Linked DNA regions of Homo sapiens: region 1 is linked to region 2. The links come from fine-mapping of genetic effects on gene expression. A gene starts in region 2. The other region holds a variant in brackets. All regions are shown on one strand. Distances are from middle to middle. Region 1 overlaps FGD2 (FYVE, RhoGEF and PH domain containing 2). Region 2 holds the start of FGD2 (FYVE, RhoGEF and PH domain containing 2).

Region 1 (10,781 bases), 23 kb after region 2:
CTCAGGAGGCTGCTGTTTCCCATTTTTTAGATGGGAAAATGAGACCCATTGAGGTTAAATTACTTGCTGAAGGTACCCCTGAAGCTGATCCTATGAATTTACCTGCATTCTTATCATCATTTTCCACGACCCTGAGACCCAGAGCTAGGAAATGGTCCCCAGTTCTAGTGGAGGGGCATCTAGCCCCGCACCCCCTCAGGCCTTGCCCCACCACCTCACCAGGCCCATGCCCACTATGCACTCACCCACCCCGTCATCCTCTCTTTACCCGCTTCGGCTAACTGTCCTCTCTTCTCTGCAAGCCCTCAGCACCCTGGCACCTGATGGATTCTGTTGTTAACTCTGCCTACTGGTTCAGGCCTCAGTCTCCTTAACTCCGCCATGGGGATCGTGAAACCTACCTCCAGTGTGGCAGTGAGGATTCCACCAAAAAACATTCTTTCCCTTCCCTCTCCTCTTTTTCTTTCCCCCTCCTCCATAACTCAGGCAGGGCATCCAGTGCGGGTGAGCTACCAGCTTCTTGAGGAGGGTACTGTGTCCACTACAGTTTCTCCTCTTATCAATCCAGGCCCAGTTACCAGAGGTAGATCTCGCTTTGCTTTTTAAGCACTCCTGTACTTGAGCTGTTCTCTGTTGACATCACAACCCCCTCTGTTTACTCTGCAAACAGAGAAGCCCTTTGCAACCTCAGTCTTTGATGACCTCCAGAGGACAGGAGGAGTCTAGCTGGACAGGTTGGGGCCAGTCAGGGAGGTGTCCCCAAAATGTGTTCAACTGCAATCAGGACAGAGTCAGTTTCTAGGACCTGGGAACACACCTGCCTTCAGATGTCAGTGATGAGTTACATCCCGAAGCCAGGTAGAAAGGATGTGGGGATTGGCTACTGTTCCTGGTGATTCACTTCTGTAAATAAGAGTTGAATTGATTCACACTTGTGAGTGAAAGTAGTTCTTTAAAAATTACTTAAAATAGTGAAATACAAAGAGGCACAAAGAATAACAACACCTGTGTAGCTGCCTTCCAGCTTAAGATAGAAAATATTCTGACAACTAAATTAAATGTATGATCCTTGCTTGGATTCTTTCTGGGGTAAAATAAAGCTATCAAGGTTGCTCTTGGGACCATTGGGAGAAATTTGATGATGCAACATATCTAGATAATAATATTGTATTGGCTGGGTGCAGTGCCTCACACCTGTAATCCCAGCACTTTGGGAGGCCGAGGTGAGCGGATCACCTGAGGCCAGGAGTTCGAGAACAGCCTGGCCAACATGGTGAAACCCTGTCTCTACTAAAAATACAAAATTAGCCGGGTGTGGTGGTGTACACCTGTAATCCCAGCTACTCGGGAGGCTGAGGAGGGAGAATCGCTTGAACCCAGGAGGTGGAGGTTGCAGTGAGCCCAGATCACCCCACTGTACTCCAGCCCAGGCAACAAAAGCAAAACTCCATCTCAAAAAAATAAAAATAATAATATTGTATCAATAAATTTCCTGAGCGTGACTGTGACACCGTGGATAGGTAGAAGGATGCCCTTGTTCTTAGGAGACCACCAGCTACATATTTAAGGGTGAGGTGTCATGATGACTGTAATTTATCCTCAAATGGTTCAGAAAAAAATAAAATACATACATATAGAGAGAGACAGAGAGCAAATGTGGCACAAATGTTAATAATTAGTGAATCTAGTGGGTGGTATCATTGTATTATTTGTTCAATTTGTCTGTCGGTAGGAAATTTTTCAAAATTAAACGTTGGTAGAGGAAAAAATATTTACTAATTATATTTAAACATTGAAATCGCTCAATAAAAAAAAAATGCTCCTGAGGTAGCTGAAGCCCCCGTGTGGGGCTGTGCCCTGACCGTGGGTTTCTCTTGCCTGTGCAGATCTTCGTGCCTGCTGAGCCAGTGAGTCATCCTTTCGGTGGTTCGGGTGCCAGTTTCTGTCTCCCCTGCCTGCCAGACGGGAATCCTTGTGAGGGTGGGGCAGGGCCAGGCCTTCTTCTCCAGGTCCCTGCCAGGCCACACTCTGTGCTGGGCACACAGAGGAGCTCCCTGAAGGCTGGTGCCGCCTGATGAACTACACTCCCTCTGCCCCTTTCTCCTGCCCTCCATCTCCACGCCCACATCTGGGCTCCCCATAAAGCCAAGTCTTCCTCGCAGTCACACCTTGCGGCACCCAGTGTTCCTCTCTGAGTCTTCCCAGGCCCCTTTTACCCAGCCTCCCGGCATGATCCATGTCAGCCTTTGGGGGGTGTCTTCGTGGTGAGCTGAGAGTGGGCCCCGCTCCACAGAGTACCCATGTAAAAACAACCAGCCTATCATTTTTAGGTGAAAACACACTTGACTCCATGATGGCGCAGAATACAAAGTCTGCCTGAATCTTAAAGCTAAACTGTGGGACTTGAAAGACACACCCTGTGTGTGGAGGGCCTGTCTGCCAGGTAACAGTGTGGCTCTCAGGGTCAGGAGAGGACAAAAGCTGGGCCCTGCTTGCCTGGTGGGGTCTTTGGGAGAGTCAGGTGAGATGGCGGAGAGGACAGCATTTGGAAAAGTGAATCAGATGCCAGTGGCCCGTCTGGGGCAAGCCCCTTGGGTTCACAGCAGCCCTCACTCGGAGGGAACCTGGAGGGGAGAGAAGTTACGGCCCTCGCGGTGGGGGCCGGGTCTTGAACCCTCAGCCTAAGAGCCCCGAGCCCGAGCTCCCCCATGTGTCGCAGCCTCCAGGCAGTTGGGCCTCACCAGCATGGGGGAGCATCCCCGCTCTGCCTCTATTCCTCCCTCGAAGCTTTCTTTTCCTCCCCCAGTCCCTGGTTGCTCTCATGCCCCCACCTGCCCACCAAGGCAGGAGCCCAGCCCTCCGGTGCCTGGTCTCAGCCCCATGCCCCCTTATGTGTCCTCCTCAGGTGGTGTGTGCCAGGTGCTCCGACTACCGGGCCGAACTGAAATACGACGACAACAGGCCCAACCGAGTCTGCCTCCACTGCTACGCATTCCTCACTGGAAATGTGCTGCCTGAGGCCAAGGAGGACAAGAGGCGGGGCATCCTGGAGGTGAGGGCCACTGTCCCCGCGCTCACCATCCGTCCTCTGTTCAGGGAATGTGTGCCCGGCAACCATGCTGGGCTGACACTGTCCAGTGCTGAGGAACAAGCCAGCCATGGTCACACCCTCCCCCCTCTCCCTCTTCCTCTCTCTGCCCACAGACCCCAGGCCTCTCGCCACAGCCCAGGCAGTGTGGAGCCTGTCACCAAATGGAGGCACCCTTTGGCTGCAGGCTGTCGTCCACATTCTTCTGCACTTCCTCTATGTCCCCATCCGATAGTACGGCCCCTCTGGACAGCTCATGTTCACGTCCCCATGTCCTGCCCCGACAGTCCCAGGGTGCCAAGAGCTGGTGTCACCGCTTCCATTTTACAGATGGGAACACTGACGCTCCAGGTCAGACAGATTGGAGACTCCATTCTAACTGGAAGGGACTCCAGGGGCCAGTCGGTCTTATCCCATGGAGACCCAGGGCTGGAGGAGTGACTTGCCCAAGATCACACAGCAAGTTAGGAGCCAGCTCTCTGATCTCAGTCACAGATGTTCTTTCTGTTGCCCTGGGGGCCTCACTGAGCCACACTTGCCCCCACAGGTGCTCCCCTGTGGGGGTACAACTGTGCTCAGCTAGGCAGCACAAATACAATGTCAACCAGCTCAGCATCAATACCACTGTCCACTGCCCCTCCCTCACGAAGGCCAGGTTGACATCCCACCGTCCCTGGGAGGTGGGAGAAGGTCCCAGCCTGTGCCAGCTGAGATTCACTCCCAGGTTCAAGTTGGCCTCTTTTGGCCAGGCGGGAAGGCTCATGCCTGTAATCCCAGCACTTTGGGAGGCCAAGGTGGATGGATCACGTGCGGTCAGGAGTTCGAGACCAGCCTGGCCCACATGGTGAAGTCCCGTCTCTACTAAAAATACAAAAAAAAAAAAATCAGCCGGGCATGGTGGTGCATGCCTGTAATCCCAGCTACTCGGGATGCTGAGGCAGGAGAATCTCTTGAACCCGGGAGGTGGAGGTTGCAATGTGTTGAGATTGCACCATTGCACTCCAGCCTGAGCAACAAGAGAGAAACTATCTGAAAAAAAAAAAAAAGTTGGCCTTTTTCCACGGGCATCCACCCCGTTTCCAATCCTCCCCATCCTTCCAGGCCCAGGACCCCCTGACCACTAGGCAACACAGCCTGCCCCTGGAGATGCTCAGCCCCTTCTCAGGGCCCAATTCTGTTTCCTGGAGCAGCTCCAGGCACCCTCCCGGCACCTGCCCCTTGTGGGCACACACGCGACAGGTTCAGGCAGGCTGGGGTTTGACTGCAGCTCTGCCACTGGCCAGCTAGCTGTGTGACCACAGGCACTTGATGGGACCTCTCTGAGCCTCAAGGACCAAGGACCCCTCCATTCAGTACTGCTGTAAGGATTGGAGATAGTGATTGTCAAGCCCCCAGACCAACATCTGGCACTTGCGGCTGCTCTGCTCCCTGACAGTCCCTCCTTCTGGTTTTAGAAAGGGTCCTCAGCCAC[G/A]CCTGACCAGAGCCTGATGTGCAGCTTCCTGCAGCTCATCGGGGACAAGTGGGGCAAGAGCGGCCCCCGGGGCTGGTGTGTGATCCCTCGGGATGACCCCCTCGTGCTCTATGTCTATGCTGCCCCTCAGGTAAGGCCACCACCTGCCCGCCCCCCGTCAGGCCCTGGCCTTCCCACAGCGTGTGTGTGAAGGGGGTCAGGGGTGAGTATTGCTAGCTCCATATGTCAGATAGGGAAACTGAGGCCCAATGAGGATATGGTATCCTGGAGTCTCAAGGTTGGTAGGTTTCAGAATTGTGCCCTGACTCTAGGTCACCACTGCTTTGCCCTCAGAGGCAGCCAGTTCTTCTGTCCTCTTCCTCGATGGCCTTCACCAGCCCACCCCCAACCCATGGGGGTTTAGGGTGTGAGCTGTGCGTGCGTGGCTGTTGCCTTCACGATGGCTATCTGGGGCAGTAGGACTGAGAGGGGACAGTGGCCCACTGCTCTCTCCTCCCCCCAGGACATGAGGGCTCACACCTCCATCCCCCTGCTGGGCTACCAGGTGACTGTTGGGCCCCAGGGGGACCCTCGGGTCTTCCAGCTACAGCAGTCAGGCCAGCTCTACACCTTCAAGGCCGAGACGGAGGAGCTGAAGGGCCGCTGGGTGAAGGCCATGGAGCGGGCGGCCAGTGGCTGGAGCCCCAGCTGGCCCAACGATGGGGACCTGTCCGACTGAGCCACTGCCAGCCGCTCTCCTGCCCACCTCTCCCCACCCTGAACCCAGCTCCTGCCACAGACTGACCCTGTGGCCTCAGTGACCCACTGCCCCAAGTGGTGCTTTCAGAGAATTGATTCAGCCATCTGCGCCCAGGCCACGTGTCCCGATCTGGGATTAGAAAATATGGGTCCATTCCTTTCTAGAAAGGGGACAACCAAGTGTCTCAGTTTGCCTTGCGGGGAGGGGGCTCCTGGGCCATGGGACTTCCAGTGCTAAAACTGGGAAAGCCCCAGGTAACCCCGGACTGGTGGTCACCATAGTATGGTTTTTCATTTGTATCTCCTGGGGAGCTTTTAAAGAGTACTGGTGAAAAACACATAGTAAATTAATTTTAAAAATGTAAAAAACAATGCCTGTACTGAAGTACCACCACCGATTTAAATGGGCTGAGTTGGGGGAGGCATGGGGTCTTTTTTTTTTTTTTTTTGAGACAGAGTCTTACTCTGTTTCCCAGGCTGGAGTGCACAAACATGGCTCACTACAGCCTCGCTCTCCCGGGCTCCAGTGATCCTCCCGCCTCAGCCTCCCAAGTAGCTGGGATTATAGGTGTGTGCCACTGTGCCAAGCTAATTTTTTTATTTTTTGTAGAGATGGGATTTCACCATGTTACTCAGGCTGGTCTCAAACTCCCAGCCTCAAGCGATGCTCCCACCTCCACCTCCCAAAGTGCTGGGATTACAGGCGTGAGCCACCATACCTGGCGCATGCATATTTTTTAAGAGTACCCACTGGAGTCTAATATATAGCCTGGGTTACCTGGGATGAAGAATAAAGAGAGCAAACTACCACAACCAATGGTTGAGCCCCTGTCAAGTGCCAGTCATGATAGTAGTAATAATAATAATAAACATCTATTGGACCAGGCTCTGTGCAAGGTGTTTTATGTGGATTATGTCATTTTACCATCCAGAGTTATCCCCATTTCCAGATGAAGACACCGACTCAGAGAGGTTTAGTAATTGGCTCAATTGGTCATGTAGCTCGTAGATGCCAGAGCCAGGTTTTAACCCGGTGAACTAAGGTCAAAGCTCTTTCTATCATGGAGCAGAACAATAAGACAAGCAGAGAGGGGAGGAGAGTGAGGAGAAGCAAAAGAGAGGGAAAGAGAGTGAAGAAGCTGGGAAGACAAGAGAGAAAGGTGAATGGTGGGAGGAAGGGTGACGGGAGGAGCATCCCTGTCCCCTCATCCCCACCTCGCTGGTGGGTGAGGATGCTTTTTCATAAGAGACCACCAGGGGGTGGCAGTGGTCAGCAGGCCACATGCAGTGGCCCCAGCAGTGGCCAGAACACCCTCAGCTGCTCTCAGCAGGTCCAGCCATTGCTGGGCTCTGCCCTGAAAGGAGGAAGCATGGATGAGTCACAGGTTTTTGTCCCATCACAGGCCCAGCAGCTTTGCCTGCCTCCAACCTGAGGCCACTTCCCTCCTGTAGGGTGTTTGTTTGTTTATTTGAGACAGGGTTTTGCTCTGTCATCCAGGCTGGAGTGCAGTGGTGTGATCAGAGCCCACTGGAACCTTGACCTTCTGGGTTTAAGCTATCCTCCTTCCTCAGCCTCCTGAGTATCTAGAAGCACAGGTGCACGCCACCACATCCAGCTAATTTTTAAAATTTTTGTAGAGATGGGGTCTCACTATATTGCCCAGACTGACCTCAAACTCCTGAGCTCAAGCAATCCTCCTGCCTTGGCCTCCTAAAGTGTTGGCATTATAGGCATGAGCCACCATGCCCGGACAGCATCAGCATTTTATTTATTTTTTATTTTTATTTTTATTTTTGAGATGGAGTCTGTCACTCTGTCACCCAGGCTGGAGTGCAGTGACGCCATCTTGGCTCACTGCAACCTCTGCCTCCCAGGTTCAAGTGATTCTCCTACCTCAACCTTCCAAGTAGCTGGGATTACAGGCGTGCGCCACCATGCCCGGCTAATTTTTGTATTTTTAGTAGAGACGGGGTTTCACCATATTGGCCAGGCTGGTCTCAAACTCCTGAACTCCGGTGATCCACCCATCTCAGCCTCCCAAAGTACTGGGATTACAGGCATGAGCCACTGCACCTGGCCTGCATCAGCATTTTAAAACTCGCCAATGATGCTGAAGGCAGCTGGCTCGGTGACAGCAGAGTCGATTCTGCAGCACTGATACCTAAGCTTTTCCAGGGGTTTAATCTGAGTGGGAGTATGGAGAGTGGCTTCACTGTGGAGCAAAATGAGGTAGCCGTCAGGAGAGGGAAGCGAGGGCACACAACCTTTGTGCTGTCATTGTTAGGTTTACTGAGGTGTAATTTACAGACTGTAAAATCCACCCTTATTAGTATATTTTCTAAGTTTTGGCAGAAGAGTACAGTCATACAGCTACCACCACAATCCCCCTATAAGTGTCCCCATGCCACCCTTTGTAGTCAACCCACACCCCTACTCCTTGCCTCTGGTAACCATTGATCTGTTTCTGACTGATAATTTTGCCTTTTCCAGATGTCATTTAAATGGAACCATAGCTTTTTAAGCCTGGCTTCCTTTACTCAGCATTATATATTTGAGATTCATCCATTTTGTTCTCCATGTCAGTAGTTCATTCCTTTTTCATTGCTGAGTAGTATTCCATTGCATGGGCATACCACAGTTGTTCATCTGTTTACCAGGTTAAGTATACTTGGGTTATTTCCAGTTTGGGGCAATTATGAATAATACTCCTATGAACTATAAACGTTCATGTTCAGTGTTTGTGTGAGCACGTTTTCTTTTCTCTTAGGTAAATACCTAAAATTGGGTCACTGAGTAAGTGTCTAACTTTATCAGAAACTACCAAGCTGTTTTCCATATTGGTTGTACCATTCTGCATTCCTACCAGCAATGTATGACATTTCCCCTGCTCATGCATTTGGTATAGTCAGGTTTGAAGTTTGTTTTTTTAAAATTAATAATTTTAGACATTCTGGTGAATGTATAGGGCTCATGACCTTTTAAATGTTTATGATACAAAGAAATGCATACAGGCTCACATCTGTAATCCCAGCACTTTGGGAGGTCAAGGCAGGAGGATCGCTTGAGCCCAGGAGTTTGAGTCTGTAATGAGCTATGATTGTACCACTGCACTCCAGCATGGGTGACAGACTGAGACCCTGTCTCAAAATGAAAAAAAAGTAGGTATTTTGCAAATGATTATTACCTACTATGTGTACCTAATACGTGCCAGGTAGTATACTACTTATACTACTTTTTCTTTTCTTTTTTTTTTTTTTTTGAGATGGAGTTTTGCTCTTGTTGTCCAGACTGAAGTGCAGTGGCACGATCTCCGCTCACTGCAACCTCTGCCTCCCAGGTTCAAGCGATTCTCCTGCCTCAGCCTCCCAAGTAGCTGACATTACAGGTATGCACCACCACGCCCAGCTAATTTTGTATTTTTAGTAGAGACGGGGTTTCACCATGTTGGCCAGGCTGGTCTCAAACTCCTGACCTCAGGTGACCCACCTGCCTTGGCCTCCCAAAGTGCTGGGATTACAGGTGTGAGCCACCACGCCTGGCAAGGTAATATGCTACTACTTTCCAAATCTCAGGGGCAGCTGATATCATGCAAAGGGCACCCCCTTGATAGCCTGAAAAGCTCAAATTCCAGTTCTGTTGAAGGCTTGACATAGGGTCTTGGGGATATCACCCAACCTCTTGAGCCTCCATGTATTCATTGTAACTTGACAAGCAGTGCCTCTTTGTAGGATTTGGTGTGAAAACCAAGTGAGATAATTCAGGGAAAGCTCCTAGCCCACAGACGGAGCTCGCTGGCTGGGAGTTGTTACTAGCTATGCTCTTCATGGACGTTTCTGCTTTCCTGGGACCATTTGTTCTGGCCGCAAGCCTGGTTGCTTCTACCTTCAGGATATACTGCGAACAGAGCCCGTCCTCACACCTCATACCCCTCACATGCTGTCACTTGGCCCGGCCACTGTGATATCTCTGGGGGTGATTGCTAGAGCTTCCCACCTGCCCTTCCTGCTCCCACACTTGTCCTCTGGCATCTTCACACAGATTCTTTCAAATCTGAAAGCTGAGCTAGTTTTCAGCTCCCAGCCCTCCAGTAGCATGGGGTTAGAAGCCCATCTAATGCCTCCCTCCGTGTGCTCCACCAGGCCCTTTGGGATGACCCCTGGCTGCTTCTCAGAGTTCCCCCTTCCCTTGCCCCATCTCACCTCCCTCCCTCAGCACACTTCCACCTCAGGACTCTTGCACCTGCTGCTCGTTCAGCCTGGATGCTGTTCCTCCAGAAATCCGCCCGATGCACTCCCTCACTTCTCTCCAGTCTCTGCCTCATTGGCCCTCGGACAGGCTTCCTTGTCCACCTGCCTCACGTAGTGCTCCTGGCAACTCTGCCCCTGACTCTGCTTCACATAATACAAATCGTTTTATCTATTTTGTTTCTTTCTTTCTTTTTTTTTTTCTTTAGACGGAGTCTCGCTCTGTCACCCAGGCTGGAGTGCAGTGGTGCGAGTGGCAAGCTCCGCCTCCCGGGTCCATGCCATTCTCCTGCCTCAGCCTCCTGAGTAGCTGAGACTACAGGCGCCCGCCACTGCGCTGGGCTAATTTTTTTGTATTTTTAGTAGAGACAGGGTTTCACCGTGGTCTCGATCTCCTGACCTCGTAATCCACACGCCTCGGCCTCCCGAAGTGCTGGGATTACAGGCGTGAGCCACCGCACCCGGCTTCTATTTTATGTTTCTTAGATTAGTGTCCTGTCTCCATTTTTGGAGGGCAGAGAGTTGGTCTTTTGTTCACTGCTGTTTCCCAGTGCCTGGCCCACAGCCAGTCCTCAATAAAAATCTGGGGACTGGCTGGGAGTGGTGGCTCACAACTGTAATCCCAGCACTTTGGGAGGCTGAGGCGGGCAGATCACATGAGATCAGGAGTTTGAGACCATCCTGGGCAACATGGTGAAACCCTGTCACTACCAGAAAATACAAAAATTAGCTGGACATGGTGGCACACGCCTGTAGTACCAGCTACTTGGGAGGCTGAGGCAGGAGAATCGCTTGAACCTGGGAGGCGGAGGTTGCAGTGAGCCGAGATGGCACCACTGCACTCCAGCCTCAGTGACAGAGTGAGACTCTGTCTCAAACAAAACAAAACAAAAGATCTGGGGACTGACAGAATGAATTGTGTGACTCAGACACGACAAGGCCATCACCTCGTACTTACTAATCATCGCCACCACTATGTCCATGAGGTCATGGGACTTTCACATCTTTCCACTTCCCCAGCATGACGCTCTGTTATTCGTCTCTGTATCCCAGGGCTTAGCATGTAGCAAGTGCTTGAAAAATACCCTCTGGCCTGGATTCACGCCAGCTCTGCCCACCCTCCAACACAGTACATTTTCATTTTCTTCCTTGAGGTGACTGGAGGTCAAAGAGGTAAAATGATGTGTCCAAGGCACGTAGCATTCCTGTGCACTCTCTCAGGGACCGGGACGCAGGTCT
Region 2 (9,550 bases):
GGAGTGCAGTGGTGCAATCTCGGCTCACTGCAACCTCCGCCTCACAGGTTCAAGCAATTCTCCTGCCTCAGCGTCCTGAGTATGTGGGACTACAGGCACCTGCCACCACACCTTGCTTTTTTTTTTTTTTAATTTAATGGAGACGGGGTTTTACCATATTGGCCAGGCTGGTCTCAAACTCCTAACCTTGTGATCCGCCCGCCTCAGCCTCCCAAAGTGCTGGGATTACAGGTTTGAGCCACCGCACCCAGCCCATCCTTCATCTTTCATACTTCAAGTCACCTCTGCCACAAAGCCTTCTGATGACCCTTCTTTGGATGTTCATAACTCCCTTGTTCAAAGCTTTCATCACATCCTATTTTAGTGGTTAACAGGCCCATCTTCCTTATTAGAGTTTGAGCTAAAGGGCTGGGGACTGTGTTTTATCTACAACCTCTACTATGGTATTGACACATAGTAGGTGCTCAAGAAACACTTATCTACTGAATGCGTGACTTAATGAATAGGGCGGAAAAGACAAAATTAAACAGAGAGGAACACCAGGTCTCTGAGGAGGAAAATGAATTTCCAGCAGTAGGTATAAAGGAAGGCTTCCTGGAGGAAGTGAACCGGCTGTAGACAGACTGAAGACACTCTAGGCCAGGGATCCCGTAGCCTATTAGGAACTGGGCCGTACTGCAGGAGGTGAGTGGCGGGTGAGCATTACCACCTGAGTTCTGCCTCATGTCCCATCAGCAGTGGCATTAGATTCTCATAAGAGTGCGAATCCTATTGTGAACTGTGCATGTGAGGGATCTAGTTTGCTCACTCTTTATGAGAATCTAATTCCTGATGATCTGAGTGGAACAGTTTCATCCCAAAATCATCTCCCCACCCCCCGCAACCCCAGAAACCAGTCCCTCGTGCCAAAAAGGTTGGGGACCACTGCTCTAGGCAAAGGGAACTGATTGGTCAAGGCAGAGCGGAGCTATAGCAAAGGCTTCTCTCAAAAGTAAGAATGCTGGTAGCCAACAGTCACCGAGTACCTACTCAGTACCAGGCCTTACTCTAACCTCTTCTATATATTATTATCCCATTTAATCTTCATAACAACCACAGGAGGTTGGCAGTATAATTATCCCCATGTGGCAGAAGAGGAAAGTGAAGTTCTGTTACTGGTCCAAGGTGCTACAGAGAAGCAGAAGGACCGGGAGTGACACAATACAGAAGATGGAAGAGCTCAGTTCCCTGCAGCTCAGATGGGGGAAGGTGGGAGGGAGAGAGTGTGAGGGAGGGATGCCCAAGCCAGAACTGCAGGGATCCAATACAGAATACAGAATTTGACCTTATACAGTGTGGGAGCTTCTTAAAGAGTTAATGCTTCTGAGTCTAAAGTAAGCAGGGCAGGCAGTGGGGAGGAGAAGCCGGCAGGGAGGTAGGGGGAGCAAAGAGGAACTGAACTAGTCAGGAAGAGCTGGGACTCTGGAGGACGGACAGGTGGCCACCTCCAAGCCATCAACTTTGATGACACAGGTTATCTTTGTCCTGGAGCTAAGCATGCACCTGGCCCAGGAGCTGGACAAGCTGAAAAGGAAGATCAGTGGAGAAGCAACAGACCCACATCAACATGTATGATCTGCAACAGGGCTGGAGCTCTGCACTGACCCAGGAACAAAACAGGGCTGCTATATCCCCTCCTGCATCCATGGCTAACAGTAGTCCAGACCATGCAGGGAAGGGGATTCTGGGGCTGTGGCTCAGCGTGGCTCAGCTTAGCTCAGCCACAGTACCCGGCAGGTTTGGATCCCAACACAGATTAGGTGTGTGCAGGCAAGAAGTAGCTGAGAGTGTCAACCAGGAGGATCTTGATGGCTGCCCCAGTGAGTTTGAGATGACTTCAGTGCAATAATGGTGCTGGCTTTAGAGAGTTGTGTGTTGAGTTGGAAGCAAAGGTAGGCATCTACCTGGTGATATCCTGAAGGTGTTGGACATATCCACTGGGTAGAAGGGCAGGAAGAGGTACCAGTGGGACCTCCAGGATAAATTCTGAATTGGGTGGGAGGTGTGTGTGAATCAGGAGACCAGAAGGCCGAGGCTGAGTCTCAGGTGATGCCTGCAGGTACAGGCAGAAAGCCTGGCAGACTGTGAGGGGCCCAAGTCAGAGTGGTAGGGGACAGGGGAGGCAGAGCCTTGGATGATGAGGGAAGGTTGTTTTGGGGGTGTAGACATCTTGGCCTCTTTTTCCTGGAGGGAAGCAGCTCTGATGGTGCCTGTGCCATCTTCAGGGTTAGGGTATTGGAGGCCTCTTGAAGGCCCACCTACCCACCCTCCAGCCCCCATGGGAGGGGCAGGTCCCATTGTTCAGGCTTGGATGCTCAAAGCACTGGCAGCTGAGGGGTAAGACAATCCTCTGAGGCTTGGGGTGTGATGTCTGTCCATTCCACATGCCTTCTGAGGCCCCACTGTATGCGGGAAGGGCGCTGGGGTTGGGGACCCACCAGGAAGTGCACGTACTCAGGTGTGCCCTGCGTGGAGGGAGCAAGCCAGCCAGTGAGCAGAGAGACTGGTGGGAGGCAGAGGAGGAAATCCAGGAGAGGAACACCAGGGAGGGAGGCGCCCCCAGGCCAGGGAGGGCATCGGGAAGAAGTGGCATTTAAAGGTGATTCTGATCGAGCCTCTAGACCTAACCACCATCGACAGGAAATCCAGGGTATGGCGCTGCAATGGGCTAAGTCCTGGCTGTGGGACCTACAGGACAAACAACCCAGGGTCCCTCCACTATGCTGTGTGGGAAAACGGAAAGGACCAGGGGAACGTGTGGATGAAAAGTGAATTCATCCACGTGACAGCTCAGGGAATGTGTGGACCTTATTTGGATTCTGATTTTTTTTTTTAATTTAACATTTATAAGGAATTGGCACTTGGAATGTTTTCTGGATATTTAATTATATTGAGGAATTATTGCTAAATATCTCTTGGGGTATGATAACGGTAATATTATTTCATATGTATATACACATGGATATAACATGTAAAACATGTATGTCTATATAAAACAATATTACTATTATACATGTGTATATATGCATATACATTTATGTGTGTGTATATTTAGTTATTTAAAGGGTTCTTGGCTGGGCGCGGTGGCTCATGCCTGTAATCCCACTACTTTGGGAGGCCGAGGCAGGTGGATCATCTGAGGTTGGGAGTTCGAGACCAGCCTGGCCAACATGGTGAAACTCCGTCTCTACTAAAAATACAAAAATTAGCTGGGTGTGGTGGCACACACCTGTAGTCCCAGCTACTCAGGAGGCTGAGGCAGGAGAATCGCTTGAACCCAGTGGGGTGAAGATTGCAGTGATCCGAGATTGCAGCACTGCACTCCAGCCTGGGTGACAGAGTAAGACTCAGTCTCAAAAAAAAAAAAAAAGAGAGAGAGAGTTCTCATCTTCTAGATACACACTAAAATGTTTATGGGTAATGTCATCTGACATCTGGGATTTTCTTCAAAATGACATGAGAAGGCAGAGTCGATGTGGCTGCAGCAGGGACAGGGGACTGGCTGTGAGCTGAGGTTTGTTATGGTCTGGATTAGGGGTTCATGGGATGCATTATATGATTCTGTCTAGTTTTGCATATGTTCTAAATTCTCCATAATAAAAAGTAAAAAACAAAAATGGAGGTTTGTGAGACTTAGGGTTTGGGGCAGGGGGCCCGGCATCTGGTGGGAGAAACCACTCAGACGAGGCTTGGGGTGAGGGCGGCTGTTGGGCATGTGAGGCCCCAGGGGTTCACAGTTACTGGAGCGTGAAGCTGTTCCAGGCACTTCACGTACCAAGAGCACCGAGGCTCAGGCCCTGCACTCCAGGACACAGACCAGGTTCAGTGGAGAGCCCTGGTGGGACCAGAGCCCAGTGGGAGGGCCCTGAACGGCCTGTGGGGCTTGAAGGAGGGGAACAGAGGCAGCGTCCATTTGTTCTGTAAGGGCCGGGAGACCAGGTGGTAAAGGAGGCCTCAGGCAAAGACAACCCAGTGTCCTGGGATCAGGGAGGCCTGGGGATGGAGCAGCAAGAACATGGTCATCCAGGCTCCCAACGAACCTTTGCTGGAACTGTAGGACACCCACTTTTGCTTTGGAAATCCAACTTCTCTTGTATTCTTCCTGGGTGACCTTGGGCAAGTTACTTAACCTCTCTGATTCTGTTTCTTCCTATGTAAAGTGGGGATAGGAATAGTACCTACCTCATGAGGTTGTTATAGGATTAATAAGAAAATACTCATAAGCATGAAAAAGAGTGCATGTTAGCTATTATTATCCTCTGAGTTTCAGGGAGGAAACTGCCCTCCCTTGGGGCAATGAGGTGATGACAGCAACAACTAAAATGAGAGAACCCCAGTGGGGAGGTGGGAACATCACAGTACTCCCTGCCACCCTTACCAGGTTTGTGATTATTTTAAATAAAACATGCTGTTTCCTGGCCAGGCACAGTGGCTCACATCTGTAATCCCAGAATTTTGGGAGGCCGAGGCAGGAGGATCACCTGAGGCCAGGAGTTCAAGACCAGCCTGAGCAACATGGTGAAACCCCATCTCTACTAAAAATACAAATAATTAGCAGGGCGTGGTGGCAGGCCCTGTAATCCCGGCTACTCAGGAGGCTGAGGCAGGAGAATCGCTTGAACCGGGAGGCAGAGGGTGCAGTGAGCCGAGATCCCACCACCGCACTCTGTCTCTAAAGAATAAAAAAGACATTATTTCCTTACAGCTGTGAGCAGGGGCAGATGCAGAAAAGAAGGTGCTGGGAAAGAGGCCAAGTAAAAGCCACTGGACCTTCTGAAGGAGAAAGTGTGGTTGGCTGGAACCACTAGGCCAAGAAACCAGCCAAGGGTCTGGCTCCGGGTGGCCTTTTTTTTTTTTTTTTTTTTTAAGAGACGGTGTCTCACTATGTTGCCCAGGTTGGTCTTGAACTCCTGGGCTCAAGCAATCCTCCTGCTTCGGCCTCCCAAAGCACTGGAATTAGAGGTGCAAACCACTGCACCAGCCCAGACTGGGCTCCAGAAGCTACCTCTGGGCCCTGTTGCCACCTCTTAGGTGGCTTCTGGAATGGGGGTCTACAGGTGTGAAAGGTCAGCCCCCCTGAGGGAGAGGTGGGGCCCGAGCAGGCTCCTCCCACTGCGGGAGTGCTGGCCTTTCCCCTGCAGGGCTGTGGCTCTGGGACCACTTCCTCTTTCTTCACTCTGAAGCCAAGAGCCGACCTTCTGAGCCCTCAAGAAAGATCAGAACAGATTCATGGGTGATTTAGCCTATCTGTCCCAGGCCAGCGTGGCTGAGTGTGCTGGCTGGAGGCCTCTCTCTCTGCTTCGAGGGTAGCTGAGATCCACCCCGGAAACCGGCAGGATGAAGGGGGCAAGTGAGGAGAAGCTGGCATCTGTGTCCAACCTGGTCACTGTGTTTGAGAATAGCAGGTATGGGCAGCTGGGGTGGGAGGGTCACCATGGTGGGCTGGCAGCCACCCTCCAGCCTTTCTGGCAGCTCTCTCCCTGGGCCCTGCCCCGGACCCTCCTCCTGCAGGGGCAGCCCCGCGTTCCTCGGTCACGGATTCCTTGGAGCATGGGAGAGTGTCGGTGGGACACCAGGAGCCAGGCAGGGGTGAGAGTGCCAGTGTGTGTTGGGAGAGTCCAGACAGGTGTGGTTACGAGCAAGCATGGGCAGACCAAAGCCTGTGTGTGGGCACAGGACCCCACCCAGTGCCTGCCAGCACCTCTCAGAAAAGGTAGCTGATACTCACCAAGAATTTACGCCCTATGATTAGGATAACCATATAATTTATCATTCAGCACACAATTGAAACTGAAAGTAAATGCCAAATAAAATGTGGTGGTTGTGGGGGAGGCATTACAGGTAAAGCTGGGACCGTATGAGGCAAACCAGGATGTACGGGCAGCATCCTGATGGGGTACTCCCTACTCTAAGTTCATGTCCTTACTTATTTAATTTAGTCATCGAACAGCCTAATAGGGGTAGATTCTGTTTCTGTTCCCGTCTTATAGATGAGGAAATGGAGACACAGAGAGGTGAGGATGCCAAGTGCTTTAAGTATCTGGGGCAATGCTGGGGCGTCTGTCTGGAGGGAAAAGGCTGGGCCAGATGCGTGGAGTCATTGGTAGCCCTGGGAGCATGTGTGTTTGTGTGTGTGCGCGTGTGTGTATGTGTGTGTTGTGTGTTATGTGTGGCATCAATCCATTCTGCAGGCATTTCTTAAGCTCAGGACTGTGTTAGGGGCTGTCCCAGGTAGGGTTTTCTGGAAATAGACTCAGACAGAGGTTTGCCTCAGGTGATTTATCAGGGAGAGCTTTTGGGAACAACAGCTGTGGGTGTGAGGGAAGCAGGGCCGGGCAGGGGGAGATGCTGAACTGCAGTGCACCTGCCACAGAGGCCTCAGCCTGTCCCAGGGAGCTCTGGAGCTGGGATGCCTCTCGGTTGTTCCAGCTGAGGAAGAGGGCTGGGTATTTGTATCTCCATGTGGACTGGACAAGAGACTCTGGGTGAGGCAGCTCTCTCTTCCAGAGAGTGATTCCCAGAGAGGGACTCAGCCAATAAATTACCCGGCAGCCCCCAGTACTACCAGTAGCTGGTGGGGATGGTGTGGGGAGGCCTCATTCCTGAAGGAGGGACATGGGTGGCACAGCACAGCATCCTACAGGAACTGTAGAGGATGAAGAAGGGTTTCAGTATTTGGATGCTGAGCTCATCGAATAACTATGATGCAAGGTCATAGACAGTAGATGTCCTAGGAATGGCCCGGATGCTGTATTGAGGGCACTCATGGCAGGCAATGTTTCCTGTAGGCTTCAGGGTGGAGATGGCATAGATGTAGACCTAGAAGTCTTCAACTTCCTGAGCTGGGTGATTCTCCCCTGCCTCTCCCGGGATCTTTGCCAAGCTCGTCCTGTTCAGCACCAAAGACAGCTCTTGGGTGCCGCCTTCCTGGCCCACCACCCCCTTGGGTGTGGGTGGATGGTACCACCTCACTCAACATGCTTGACGTGGACTAGGCACACCTGGGTGGAGCCCCTCAGCATGCTGTGCTCTGCCCAGGCAATAACCCTGGCAGGAGTGGGCAGCCCTTAGACGGGAGTTAGGTCCCAGCAGGCATCAAGAGGGTGAGAGCCACTCCTTACTGAGTGAGGGGACCCATACCAACTGCCTTGGCCTGGGCTTCCTTATGAGGTCTCCAGCACCTCAGCTGATCTGAAACTGAGGGGCAAAGAGGAAACAGAAGCTGGCCAGGGGCCCTAGAACAGAAATGCAGAACCTGAAACCAAATGTAGAACAGAAAGCCTGAGAACCAGCTACGCCCATGAGCTGCAGACCCATGGGCTGAGAAACCAGGGACTGGGGTGCCAGGGAGGGGTGGGAGAGCCTGGGAGTAGCCACACAGCACTAGGTCCCAATGCTTTCGCTGCCACAAACCCAATTGTGTCACTTGGGGCAAGTCACTTTGACTCCGCGGACCTGTTTCTCCTTTACTCAAATGGGGAGGGGCAGGTTAGAGTGAAGGCTCAGGAAGCAGTCGCCTGATTTGAATCCCACCTCTGCCACTTCCGAGCCGCATGTTACTCATCCTGTCCAGACCTCAGTTTCCTTGAGTGCAAAATATGGGTAATGAAAACCTTTCTCACGGAGTTTTGGAGATTTCGTATTTGTTTGGCCTTCCATTTCCTGGCCTGTCTTTCTCATAAGGATGCCTGCCCTGTTCTGTCATCACAAGCCCTTCCACACCAAGGGCAACGTTGGGTGTATTCATCAAGGGTGGGCCCTGTTGTCTAAGGAATTTGACTGGCTTGCAGAACCCAGTACACAGGGTAATAAAGGTGACCTACGAAGGCCCGTCCCTGGGAGAACAGAGCATCTGCTGCTGGGCTGGCTCTCCCTGCTTCTGGACGTGTGGAGGATGTCGATCCCATTGAGAAGCCCCAGCTTTTGCAGGCCTGCTCTCACTTTATATTGTTCTGTGGCTCCTACCTTCCCTTGATGTATAGGTTACTGATGTGGAAACTGAAAACAGAGGTGAGGTCCAAAGGTGAGGATAATCCAGGGGGTACCACTCAAAAACCCCTATATACAGAAAGGATTCCTGGACACTGTGGCTTCATTTTAAACAAGGAAGTATGCAGTTCCCCAGAAAATAAAATATAGTCCACCCTGACTCATTTTGAACACTGAGTTCCCTCCAAGAATGTGTTGGGAGAGAAGTGAAAGTCTTACTCAGCATGTTCCCAAAGAAAGCCAGGCACCCAGGGGCCCCTGCACTGGGGATTTGCACCAGGCAACCCAAATCCACACCAGGGACTTGCTGCTGTTTTCCCTGTTCTCCAGGGAGGAAGCCCTCAGGTCTGTCTCTTCTCCTCAGGACCCCAGAAGCAGCACCCAGAGGCCAGAGGCTAGAGGACGTGCATCACCGCCCTGAGTGCAGGCCTCCCGAGTCCCCAGGACCACGGGAGAAGACGAATGTCGGGGAGGCCGTGGGGTCTGAGCCCAGGACAGTCAGCAGGAGGTACCTGAACTCCCTGAAGAACAAGCTGTCCAGCGAAGCCTGGAGGAAATCTTGCCAGCCTGTGACCCTCTCAGGATCGGGGACGCAGGTGCCTGAGGGCTGAGGTAGAGGTGTGGGGTGCTGGGGTGGGGAGCTCTCCCTGACCTCCCCTCCACACATGCTTTCCTAGCCAGAGCCAGCAGTTCCCCAGGTGGGGGTATGGTGTGATCAGAGGTCAGCTGGGAGCTAGATTTCCCCATGCTTAATGGCCTTTGATTCACTAACTGCCTGCTACGCACCGTGCTGGATTACTTCGCGAGTCCCTCGTGTAGGAGTTTTTTGGACAAGGAAGTTGAAACACAGTTTTAAGGAACTTATTCAAGGCCACACAGCTTGGAACAGTCTCCATCTTGTGAACCTAATACTCTTCTCAGGTGGGGCCTCAGTTTACCCACTGGAGGAGACAACAATCTCAACCTAGAAATAGAGGTCTGAGTGTGAACTGTCCTGCCCTTAGACTAAAGCCCAGTCTGATCTCTTCTGTGGCTTGCAGTTTTCTCATCTGCAGAGTTCAAGGGTTGGCATGCAGATACTGTGCACCCAAATTCCCTGGAGTCACATCCCAGCACGTCTGCTTACTAACTGTGTGTCCTTGGGCAAGTCACTTGAGTCTCTTTGTGCCAGTTTCCTCATTTGTAAAATGGGGATAGTGGTTATAGTAATGCGTCCTGGTTTTCAATCGCTGCTGAACAAACCTATCAAAAATGTAGCGGCTGGCCGGGTGCAGTAACTCACGCCTGTAATCCCAGCACTTTGGGAGGCCGAGGTGGGCAGATCACCTGAGGTCAGGAGTTCAAGACCAGCCTGGCCAACATAGGGAAACACTGTCTCAACTAAAAATACAAAAATTAGTTGGGCATGGTGGTGGGCGCCTGTAATCCCAGCTACTCAGTAGGCTGAGACAGGAGAATCACTTGAATCCAGGAGGAGGAGGTTGCAGTGAGCCGAGATTGCGCCACTCCACTCTAGCCTGGG

What was found.
Region 1: its variant is fine-mapped to the expression of FGD2 in whole blood (TOPMed, PIP above 0.99).

The regions. Positions count from the first base shown.
Region 1 is chr6:37,022,887-37,033,667 of GRCh38, forward strand. FGD2 (FYVE, RhoGEF and PH domain containing 2) reads left to right here. Exons shown (of 16, transcript NM_173558.4): 14 at 2,906-3,052; 15 at 4,543-4,689; 16 at 5,062-6,183. The coding sequence ends at 5,277. Among named protein-coding and RNA genes, the nearest start is that of FGD2, 23 kb to the left of the region's middle. RefSeq lists enhancers at 1,624-2,823, 2,535-3,472, 6,757-6,836. The variant G/A (reference allele first, on the strand shown) is at 4,560.
Region 2 is chr6:37,000,442-37,009,991 of GRCh38, forward strand. It overlaps FGD2 (FYVE, RhoGEF and PH domain containing 2), which reads left to right and starts at 5,214. Exons shown (of 16, transcript NM_173558.4): 1 at 5,214-5,444; 2 at 8,393-8,624. The coding sequence starts at 5,377. RefSeq lists a silencer at 4,812-4,974 and enhancers at 5,230-5,359, 7,180-7,349.